Homo sapiens: one gene and its partners. The protein of the gene in region 3 purifies or fractionates together with the protein of the main gene of each other region. This does not show direct contact. Each region holds a gene or a part of one and is shown on either strand. Other genes may lie near its edges.

Region 1 (3,600 bases), on a different chromosome or scaffold from region 3:
GATCAATATAATCAAATTGCCCTTCTTAAATGTTACACCAGTTATATTCCTGTCACCAATGTATGAGAGTGCATATTTTCCTATAGCCTTGCCAACACAATATGTTGTATTTTTTTATCTTTGCCAATTTGATAGATGAAAAATGGTATCTTAGATTGGTTTTAATTTGCATTACAAATAAAGCTAACCATTTTTTCGTATGTTTGTCACTTATGTATCCCTTTCTGTTAACTATATTCTTCGCCCATTTTTCTTTTGGATTCAAGATCAATTACTGATTAATTTGTAAAAGCTCTTTACATATTAGGAAAATTAGCCCTATGTTTTTTATGAGTTCCAAATGTATACCTTTTTTTTAAATAAAATGACTTGGTGGCAAAGAGTTTTTTTACTAAATGAAATTTTTGCTAATTTATCTGTCATCAAGATTGATATCACAGTTCAGTGCCATCCTGTAGGATTTGCAAGACTTTGCTCTAATTTACTGAGCTAAAAAGACTTGACTCTATCAGTGTCATGCTTTTCTAATCAAAATAGAGGACATGGCCGGGCACGGTGGCTCACGCCTATAATCCTAGCACTTCGGGAGGCCAAGGCAGGTGGATTGCCAGAGCTCAGGAGTTTGAGGCCAGCCTGGGCAACACAGTGAAACCCCGTCTCTACTAAAATAGAAAAAATTAGCCAGGCATGGTGGTGCACGCCTATAGTCCCAGCTACTCAGGTGGCTGAGGCAGGAGAATCACTTGAACCAGGAAGAGGTAGGTTGCAGTGAGCCGAGATCGCACCACTGCACTCCCACCTAGGCAACAGAGCAAGACTCCATCTCAAGAAAAAAATGGAGGACATAAAGTAAGGTTTGTAATGTCACATATGAACTCATTTCAAATTTGTTCAGAGCTCAACAGTCCCCAGTCTAACTTTGTTGTTTTAATTTAAAATATTTTTTGATTTAGTTGTAAGGTGGTTGGATTGACAAACCAGAAACCTGTAGCTTTGTAATTTCTTTTAAGTTACAGTTAGGTCAAATTCCACTTGCTTCAAAAATAGAAGACTTAGGTGGGGCATGGTGGCTTACACCTGTAATCGCAGCACTTTGGGCAGGAGAATTGCTCAAGTCCAGGAGATTGAGGCAGCAGTGAGCAGTGATCATGCCATTGCACTCCAGCCTGGGTGACAGAGCAAGATCCTGTCTCAAAAAAACAAAAAACAAAAAAAGCCAGATGAATTTGAATAGTGATGTTGTCAATGTTACTGTTTTTGTAGGTATGCTGTAAGCATCATGTGGGAACTGGATAAAGCCTCTTATGAAATTAAGAAAGTGTGGTATGGCAGAACCATTATTCGATCAGCATACAAACTGTTCTATGAAGCAGCCCAAGAACTACTGGATGGAAACTTAAGCGTTGTTGATGATATTCCAGAATTCAAAGACTTGGATGAGAAGAGCAGACAAGCCAAGCTGGAGGAGTTGGTGTGGGCAATTGGAAAGCTGACCGACATAGCTCGCCATGTCAGAGCTAAACGAGACGGATGTGGTGCCCTGGAACTGGAAGGGGTAGAGGTTTGCGTACAGCTAGATGACAAAAAGAACATTCACGACCTCATCCCCAAGCAGCCCCTGGAAGTCCACGAGACAGTGGCTGAATGCATGATCCTGGCCAACCACTGGGTCGCCAAAAAGATCTGGGAGAGCTTCCCTCATCAGGCCTTGCTGCGCCAGCACCCTCCTCCACACCAGGAGTTCTTTTCAGAACTCCGGGAATGTGCTAAAGCCAAAGGCTTCTTCATAGATACACGGTATTCCTCTTTTGAGGGGGCAGAGGAATGGAGTGGCATGCTGTATATTTAGTTATCTTACAGTTGTTCTTAAAATGTGACAGCCAGATCTTTGACCAAAAAGAGAAAACAGATTCTTGGCTCTCCTCATTTTTGAAGACACATTTTTCCCTCTTCATTGTTATGTATAGAGACTTAAAACAAGTTTATTTAGGCATAATTTTGTTCCTTGGTTTTTTGTTTCAATTTTTTTTTAGATAGAGTCTTGCTCTGTCACCCAGGTTGGAGTACAGTGGTATGATCTCGGCTCACTGCAACCACCACCTCCCAGGTTCAAGTGACTCTCCTGCCTCAGGTTCCTGAGTAGCTGGGACTACAGGCACACGCCACCATGCCTGGCTAATTTTTTTGTATTTTTAGTAGAGACAGGGTTTCGCCATGTTGGCTAGGCTGGTCTTGAACTCCTGACCTCAAGTGATCCACCTGCCTCGGCCTCCCAAACTGCTGGGATTATAGGCATGAGCCACCACACTGGACATTTAGGCATAATTTTGACCCACTACAATTTGGGTTTTTTTGTTCGGTTGGTTTTTTTTTTTTCTTTGAGATAGAGTCTCGCTCTGTCATCCAGGCTGGAGTGCAGTGGCACAATCTTGGCTCACTGCAACCTCCGCCTCCCAGGTTCAAGCGATTCTCTTGACTCAGCCTCCTGAGTATATGGGATTACAAGCATGTGCCACCACGCCTGGCTAATTTTTGTATTTTTAGTAGAGACAGGGTTTCACCATGTTGGTCAGGTTGGTCTCAAACTCCTGACCTCATGATTCGCCCGTCTCGGTCTCCCAAAGTGCTGGGATTATAGGCATGAGCCACTGTGTGTGGCTGACCCACCATAATTTGTAATACAGAAGTAGGGAACCTGTTAGTTACCCTTGATTTAATTTCATGTACCCCTTAAGTTACAAAGAAATAATCCTATTTATTTCAGTACTTTTAAAATGCAGCATCTTTGTGACAATATCATAAGATACTACACCAACAGTGAATTTATACCACCCTCAATTGAGTGAGACATTTTTACTCCCTATCTCTAGGATAAAATACTTCTTTCATTAAAAACCAAGTATAGGCAGGCTGGGCACAGTGGCTCATGCCTGTAATCCCAGTACTTTGGGAGGCCGAGGCGGGCAGATCACGAGGTCAGGAGATCGAGACCATTCTGGCTAACACGGTGAAACCCCATCTCCACTAAAAATACAAAAAATTAGCCAGGTGCTGTAATCCCAGCTACTTGGGAGGTTGAGGCAGGAGAATGGCATGAACCCGGGAGGCGGAGGTTGCAGTGACCCAAAATCGCACCACTGCACTCCAGCCTGGGTGACAGAGCGAGACTCTGTCTCAAAAATAAATAAATAAATAAATAAAAACTAAGTATAGGCTGGGTACAGTGGCTCACACCTGTAATCCTAGCACTTTGGGAGGCTGAGGCAGGCACATCACTGAGGTCAGGAGTTCAAGACCAGCCTTGCCAACATGATGAAACTCTCTCTGCTAAAAATACAACGAGCCAGGCATGGCGCACTCTTGTAATCCCAGCTACTCAGAGGCTGAGGTGCGAGAATCGCTTGAACCTGGGAGGCAGAAGTTGCAGTGAGCCAAGATTGTGCCACTACACTCCAGCCTCTGTATGGTCACTGTATGAGCTGTCTGCATGCCAGGCACATGGGACAAGGGCTTTCAGACATCCTCTTGGTTAATTCTTAATGCTGAGGTGATGGCAGCATCATTCATATTTACAGATAAGTCAATTAAGTCTGAAGAGAT
Region 2 (3,825 bases), on a different chromosome or scaffold from region 3:
TGGCCCTCATTTAGTCAGCACGAAGTTACACAATGTGCAAAAGTGAACACAGATAGAAACGTAAAGGAGGTAAAGTGTTCCAAAAAGATCAAATGAATCAAAAAGCTCTGAAACAGACTTGGTAAAGACACCAGAGTTGTTTTTTTTTTACCCCTCCCCCCCCCACTTTAAAAGGCAGCAACCGGAATAAATCAAGATAAAAACAGAATCACAAAAATAGTGCAGGACTGTGCAGATTAAAACTTTACAATTTTCAACGTCAAACTGCAATATGATAAAGCAACAATATTACTTAAACTGTTTATGAATATTTTTTCTCTAACAATCCAAGTCAACTTCATATAAAACACAAAGTTTCTGTACCAGCAAAAATACAAATGCTAATGAAACTTGGGCTTCTAAGGTATTATTACAAATCAGACTTAACTGTCTTAGATTTCATAAGCTTAACCCAATCCACAGCACGTTAATATACCCAATGAAGCAGTCTTAAGAATAACGCTATAGTGTGACACATGGGGAATTACCAAAGAACAACTTAAAGTATACTGACACAGGGAGAAATAAGCGGTTCTGATGATTCAAAGTTACACTCGTCTCACAGACCTAGTAATGACGCTAAAGGGAACTTTAGTGACACACCCAGCGCCGACCGCCACGTTAAGGATACAGCTCTTCCGAGGTGGAGAGGGCTCTCGCCAGCTCTGACTGCTGCTGAACCCGGATCCTGCTCCTCCTCCCAGAGGAGGTCTGCACCCCGGCTTGCCTCCTCGCTCACCCACTCCTCGCCCCCGACTCCAGCGACTCCCACCCCGGTAAGGCCTGCCTCGAAAGCGGAAACGGTCCAAGGCGAGGTGGCTCCGCTCCCAGAAAGACGGCCGGGGACTGCTTTCGGACAGTGAGCTCGAAGGCATCCGTACAGAAGGCGGATGAGACCGGAACGGTTCTTTGGGTCGGTAGCTGCTGGGTCCCCTGAGGTGGCCCCGCTCAGACGCGTGCCGCGAGCGTGAGAAATTCCTCAGCTGCTGCTGAGAAGAGGACGATGACGAGGAAGAGCCACCGCCTCCGCCAGATCCACCGCCCCGGGCCGAGTGAGGAGGCCTTCGCCGCGGATAGGGTAACAGCCCGCCGCCGCTGCTGCTGCTGCTGCTCCGACTCCGTATCTGGCTGTTATTATCGTCGTCACTGATTTCCCCATCTTCAAGCTCCCCTTCTTCCTTCGGCGAGAGGCCACTGGAGGCCGGGGCCGGAGTATCTGCGGTCGCCATCCGGGGAGCAGCGCCTTCCACACAACCTTAGCCCTCCGTCCGGGGATCCGCCCGACAATTGCCTCGTTTCCCTTCTTTCCTAACGGACTGGGTCGGTGCGGTCTTACCCTACTCGGACACCAAGCGGCCTCTGCTCCCCAACTTCCCCGCACCCCAGCACCCCAGCTCTCTCTCGCCGGACCGTCGCAACCCAGTTCCCTTTCCTAGCGCCCCCTTGCTCCTCAGCGATCGGGGTTCTTCCGCCTCGCGAGAAAGGGACTCTGGTAGCGGCTGTACCCGAAACGTCACTTCCTGCGACACGCAGGAAACAAAGGCTCCCAGTTCACGCGATAATAAGACCAACTCGATACTCACTAGGATTTGTAGTCTTTCGTCTTTCTTCGGGTTTACTCTTCCGGTCCTAGGGTCACACCCACCGCAGGGTCTGGCTTGGTACAGTTGGGTGCATGCAGAAGTAGGTGGAGCTGCTGTTGCAGCCTTGAGAGAGTTTTATTGTAAAACTCTTGTAATTTATAGTAATCGGAGGGGAAAACACCTCTTCCTTTTAATTGCTCTGAGGACCGCTGCCAAAGAAACGCAGTAGATCCGCTCCCTCTTGGGGGCGGGGAGAAAGAACGGGTTGTGTCCGCCATGTTGGTGAAGTCAAGCGAAGGCGACTAGAGCTCCAGGAGGGCCAGTTCTGTGGGCTCTAGTCGGCCATATTAATAAAGAGAAAGGGAAGGCTGACCGTCCTTCGCCTCCGCCCCCACATACACACCCCTTCTTCCCACTCCGCTCTCACGACTAAGCTCTCACGATTAAGGCACGCCTGCCTCGATTGTCCAGCCTCTGCCAGAAGAAAGCTTAGCAGCCAGCGCCTCAGTAGAGACCTAAGGGCGCTGAATGAGTGGGAAAGGGAAATGCCGACCAATTGCGCTGCGGCGGGCTGTGCCACTACCTACAACAAGCACATTAACATCAGCTTCCACAGGTAACCTGGGCAGGGAGTGGGGGTGACGGAAACTGGAGTTCCTATTGTGGCTATCGCTTGTGTGGAAGGAACAGGAGGATTCTGCTAATTCTAATAACTTTCCCAGCTGGTAGCAGGGAAGCATCGTATGTCCTTTGTGTTTCTCAAATCTGCCCAATTGTTCTCTGCTTTCGGGGAAGCTTTACTCATTTTCTAAAAGAAATCCAAGTACTGTTTGGTCATTACCCCTTAGTAAAAAAAAGTAACAGGAGGATATCGTAATTTTCTACTGTTTTATTCCTCTGTTAGACCGGGCCTTGACATGAATGACGCCGTAAGGGAGAAAGAGATCTTCCCAATCAGCAATCACCGTAAAAGCCTGCTGTGTTCCCGTTAAAATTAGGAAATTCTCACTAGATGAATTGACATGGGAGGCATTTAGATTTCTAATAGTCACATAGTAATTCTGCGGAGGAATTGAGTCATCTTTGATAGCCATGGAATTAAGCGATGTTAATTAAAGTGCAAAAGATAACCTTTCTGTTCTTACTAGAATAGAGTAATAAAAAGAACCTAGGTTTTCTTTTGTTTGCTGGAAGAAAAATCAAAATTCTTTAGTTCTGTCAAACCAGAACTCTTGAAAGCACTTTGAACAATGCCTGGAAAATAACAGGTACTCTGTAAATGTTTACCTTCTCTGCAAGTGCCTGCCACGTGCCCGAAGAAAAGACACATTAAAAAGTTAAGTGACACCAGTCCTGATTTTATATATTTTATATACCTAACAACGTATATGTTAGTATGTAGAAATTATATCCTTGACCTTTTTCCCTACCTATTACGAACTGTACTTTTATTAAAAGCTGCCACTTAAAAAAAATCTTGTGATGTTTCTGTTTTTAAACTAGTTCATGCATATGTAGTGCTTTGTTCATTCATCCATCAAATATGTACGGAGTTCCTAATTACCTGACATTGTGCTAAGGATCCAGAAAGTTCTAACCCTCCTGGAATTTAGAATTTAATGGTGGAGAAAGACATAAATAATTAAGTGCCACAGAAGAAACATTCAGAGACCTAACTTAGTCTTGGAAAGTCAAAGAACACTTTTTCAAAGGATGTGACATTTCAAATGAGACCAAAGGATGACAGATTGGGTCCTGTGTGCTACTTAAGTATTTTCTGTTTTATCCTAAGAGTACTTGAGAAACCATGGAGGGTTTAAAAAAGAATGGCACGATTAGATTTGCATATTGAAAAGTCCTCTGGCTGCAGTGTAGAGAATCGTAGTGTTACTGAAAGTGCTGGTCAAGCATCATCGGGAATGAACTTGATGAGAAAGGAACTTATTACAGAATATTAATTTACCTATTTTTTTCCTTCACAGGGAAATCTTGCTACAATGTCAACTAAACTAAACCCTTTACTCAGTTGCTGGCACAATCAGCATTGAATTAGGGAATGTGTGAGCTGACAGAGAAAAACTAGTTAGGAAGCTGTAGTAAATAAAACAAGGAAAGTCCACCCAAATTTCTAGACTAGGGTGATATTAGAGTAGAAATGGAGAGGAGGGGACAGATTGGAGAAATGTTCAAGGAGAAACTACTG
Region 3 (3,825 bases):
CCTGCTATCTTGCCAGTAAGTTTTTTCTTATCAATGACCAAAGCTGCTAAACCAAATAGAGAATGTGGGTGATCTTTTTCCTTCTCCTTTGCTTCCAACGTCCAGTTGAGTCTCCCCATTTGGTGGGGGTGGACATTTAAGTTAATTTCTTTCTTCTTAGTTGCAACTCGGATATTTAGTTTGAGCCTGAGTCACCCAGTACATCATCTGGCTTATTCCAAGAGCTAAAACAACTGCTAAAATCTTTCCAATATCTGCTTGGCCAATTCACTCCACTTCTCTGAAGTTAATGTTATTACCAACCATAAAATCAAACTCTGTTCAGTAAAGATTCAAATTTTGCTAATATGCATGAAAGTGCTTGACAAACTCTAAGTTATGCTGCAATTTGTCCTCCACCCTCATTCACCCATTCATCCCTAACTCCATCCTAGCTCAACTCCATTCAAATCTTGCCCATATAATGTTTACTCTCTCTCTTTTTTTTTTTTTTTTGAGACAGGGTCTCCCTGTGTCACCAAGGCTGGAGTGCAGTGGCGCCATCTCAGCTCACTGCAGCCTTGATCTCCCAAGCTCAAGTGATCCTCCCACCTCAGCCTCCCAAGTAGCTGGGACTAAAGGTGCGTGCCACTAGGCCTGGCTAATATTTTGTATTTTTTGTAGAGATGGGGTTTCACCATGTTGCCCAGGATGGTCTCAAACACCTGGGCTTAAGCGATTTGTCTACCTCAGCCTCTCAAAGTGCTGGGACTACAGGCATGAGCCACTGCGAATGGCCTATCTTTCAAAACATTATGAATGCTTCCTTCCCTCTTTTGGAAATTCCACCTCTTTAAACATGACATGTAACAGTTTGCTACTCTCTAGAAGTAGTGCTTAGTGACAGGCATCACAGAGTACAGAGTAGTAATAAAGAGCCAGGGTTCTGGAGCCAGACTGCCTGAATTCCCGTCCTGTCTACACTACTTATTAGCTGTGTAACTTTGGGTAAATTACTTATTTCTGTTTCAGTTGCCTTAGCTGTAAGAAGAGAGTTACTGCCTGTAGTCACCTCAAAGTGTCATTATGTGAATTGCATAGGTTAATATACGCAAACCACTTCAATCATTGTCTAGTACTATAAATATTTGCCATTTTCTTGATACTGTTCCCCGTTTCAATAGCTTTCCATTGCTCACAAAATAAAGGAAAATATCTTTAATCTGGCCTCAAATTCCCTGCACGTTGTGACCATTGCCTACTCTGCAACCCCATTTCTTAGTACTTGCCTTCCAGACATACTGAATTGTCTCTAATTCTTGGAAATTTCCATGGTTTTCTTTTTCTTTCTTGCCTCTCAGACTTCTGAACTCAGTTTCTCCTAGTTTAGGACGCTGTGCCTTCCACCCTCCCAGTAACCTAGAGACTACCCTGCGAGACTCACCCTCTTCTCCCTGGAAGAAGAGGGAGTTCTGCCAGCAGACTGTCTTTGGACTTGGACTGAGTACTTCTCTGGGTCTCCAGCCTACTGGCCCACCCTGCAGATTTTAGACTTGCATCTCCACAGTCGTGTGATCCAGTTTTAAAAATACCCCCTCTCTCCATACACATATATACACATATACATCTTGTTGATTCTGTTTCTCTGAAGAACTCTACTAAAAGAAGTATTATCAAAATTAAAAAGGAGCTTGAACTCATGTAGCCTAATGCTCTTCTTTTTAAAGATGAGGAAAAGAGATATTCAGAGAAAGAAGTGAATTTACCTAAATTACCCAGCTAAGGAGTTACACTTCCCATATATCATATTTATTGCATATATAAGTAAGCAACAACTTCTCGAGAAGCTCGGTGAGTCCCCAAGGTCCCCAGCGCTTCTACCCTCACTGCACTGGGTAAGCTGTACCCTGACTGCTTCTGTGTACTCAAGCTCCCATCCGCCCGCGGGCCTCCTGAGAGAGTCGGCCTAATTCGTAAGCTGGTTCCCAGTAAACAGTGCAGAGCAGGCGCTAAGTGAATGAATGAGCACGAGAGCTGGAAGCCCTCTGAGGCCTCTCTGGTGTCCCTTGTCCGCCCGCCGCCTCGGCCCCGGCCAGGTTGGAAGGACCGGGTGCCCCTACCGCCCGGAGTGGCGCTCTCAGCGTCCCCGCACCTTCATGCGCAGTAGATTCTTGGACAACCTTGTCTTTCGCTCGGCCGCCATGGTAGCTTCCGCCCAGCGCCGCACTCCGGCCGCGAGCCTCACCGCACATGCGCGGAGCCGCGTGCGCAGCTGCGTCCCTCGCGTAGTGCGCGCCGCCCCGCCCCGCCCCTCCCCTGTGTCTTGCGCGCGGGCGCGGCCACTCAGCGGGCGCTCTGCTGACTGAGAGGCTCGGGTAAGCTCGCGGGGTGGCGGGCGCGGGGATGAGCGCGGCAGACCGCAAAAAAGCCGAAGTCAGAGGACGACCCAGAACTTGGCTTCCCCGAGCCGCGGGTCGCCTTCCCGGGACGTCGGCCTGGCCCCCTCGGAGGCCCATCCTCCCTCGGGGACTCCCTTCCTCAGGGACCCCCTCCACACTCAGTAGTCCTCGCCAGCCTCAGAGAGGTTTCCGCCACGCCTGCCACCCGCCTGGGCCGTGTTACCCACGTGTTTTGTCTTCATAACGTGGGTGGCGGGCTCCCTTTGTTCTGGGTCGCTTTGCAGGGTCCAGGTCGTTTTCTCTTCACCAGGACCCCACGAGTTGCTGCTTTCCTCACAGCAGCCCGGAGTCCCGGGGGAGCGCGGCGGGGGCCGCCCCAGGCAGGCTGGCTTCATTCCCAGGCTGCTGCCGATGCGTGTCTGGCCGAGTGATCTCTGCTAAACAGAAGAATCTCAAGAAATGGCAAGGGATGGAGGCAGGGATGGGTGCCAAAGACACATGAATGAGAACAAAGCCTGGTTTTGATCCAAAGAATTGAAAAGACCATAGCGAGGGGCAACATAGGGAGACCCCACCTCTACAAAAAAAAAAAAAAAAAAAAAAAAAAAAAAAATATATATATATATATATATATATATACACAAAAAATATACAAAATATACATACAAAAAATATATACAAAATATACAAAAAATGTACAAAAGATACAACAAAAATAGCTGGGTGTGGTGGCACGGATCTGTGGTCTCCACTACTTGGGAGGCTGAGGCTGGAGAATCACTGGAACCCGGGACGTCGAGGCTGCAGTGAGCTGACATCCCGCCACTGGACTCCAGTCTGGGCTACAGAGTGAGGCTTTGTCTCAAAAACAAAACAACAAAACAAAAAAGAATTTAAAAAACCACTGAAAATAGGGTAGCGTTCCTACCCTGGTGTTTAATGCTCTGGGTACCACCTAAACACGTTTTCGAAAACCATTCCCAGGTCCGACGCTTTGGAACACCCTCAAGCTAATAGCATCTCGGCTGATACCATGAGTTCTACGTCAGATTGTTGACCTGGTCACCTTAGGGCTAATTAGTTCACTTAATCCCCATAAGAACCGGAAAGAAGGTATTGTCATCGTGTTGTTAAGGATTCTGAGACACAGAGTGGGTAACGCACTTGGTGTTCACACAGCTAATCCATGTTAGAGCTGAAATTCAAACACCGATTTGGATGTTAAAAGCCCTTTAGGTTTTCCCAGGGGTAAATAAAATCATTGTAATGTACCAAGTGGCTACAGAATCTCATTCACTTGTGACTGTGTGTGAGATGCCGGGGGTATAATAGCGTGTAAAAACACATATCCCCACCTTTCCTGAAGCTGATATTCTGGACGTAAGTAAGTGGCGACTGCTATGAAAGAGAGAAAACAGTGATGTGACAGAGTAACGCTTAGGGTTAC

Evidence for each region.
Region 1: the proteins of MPHOSPH6 (region 3) and DIS3L purify together in Homo sapiens (affinity purification with mass spectrometry; 3 studies listed by BioGRID and IntAct, with this or other methods). This does not show direct contact.
Region 2: the proteins of MPHOSPH6 (region 3) and ZFC3H1 purify together in Homo sapiens (affinity purification with mass spectrometry; 3 studies listed by BioGRID and IntAct, with this or other methods). This does not show direct contact.

Annotation. Positions count from the first base shown.
Region 1 is NC_000015.10:66,324,568-66,328,167, forward strand, and holds part of DIS3L (DIS3-like exonuclease 1), read left to right. Parts: intron 1-1,263; coding exon 1,264-1,797; intron 1,798-3,600. UniProt on the Homo sapiens protein: Catalytic component of the RNA exosome complex which has 3'->5' exoribonuclease activity and participates in a multitude of cellular RNA processing and degradation events.
Region 2 is NC_000012.12:71,662,343-71,666,167, forward strand, and holds the start of ZFC3H1 (zinc finger C3H1 domain-containing protein), read right to left. Parts: upstream 1,507-3,825; 5' UTR 1,269-1,506; coding exon 671-1,268; intron 481-670; exon of another isoform or gene 1-480. Other genes in the region: THAP2 (THAP domain-containing protein 2), read left to right, coding at 2,168-2,238. UniProt on the Homo sapiens protein: Subunit of the trimeric poly(A) tail exosome targeting (PAXT) complex, a complex that directs a subset of long and polyadenylated poly(A) RNAs for exosomal degradation. The RNA exosome is fundamental for the degradation of RNA in eukaryotic nuclei.
Region 3 is NC_000016.10:82,167,994-82,171,818, forward strand, and holds the start of MPHOSPH6 (M-phase phosphoprotein 6), read right to left. Parts: upstream 2,232-3,825; 5' UTR 2,183-2,231; coding exon 2,132-2,182; intron 1-2,131. UniProt on the Homo sapiens protein: RNA-binding protein that associates with the RNA exosome complex. Involved in the 3'-processing of the 7S pre-RNA to the mature 5.8S rRNA and play a role in recruiting the RNA exosome complex to pre-rRNA; this function may include C1D.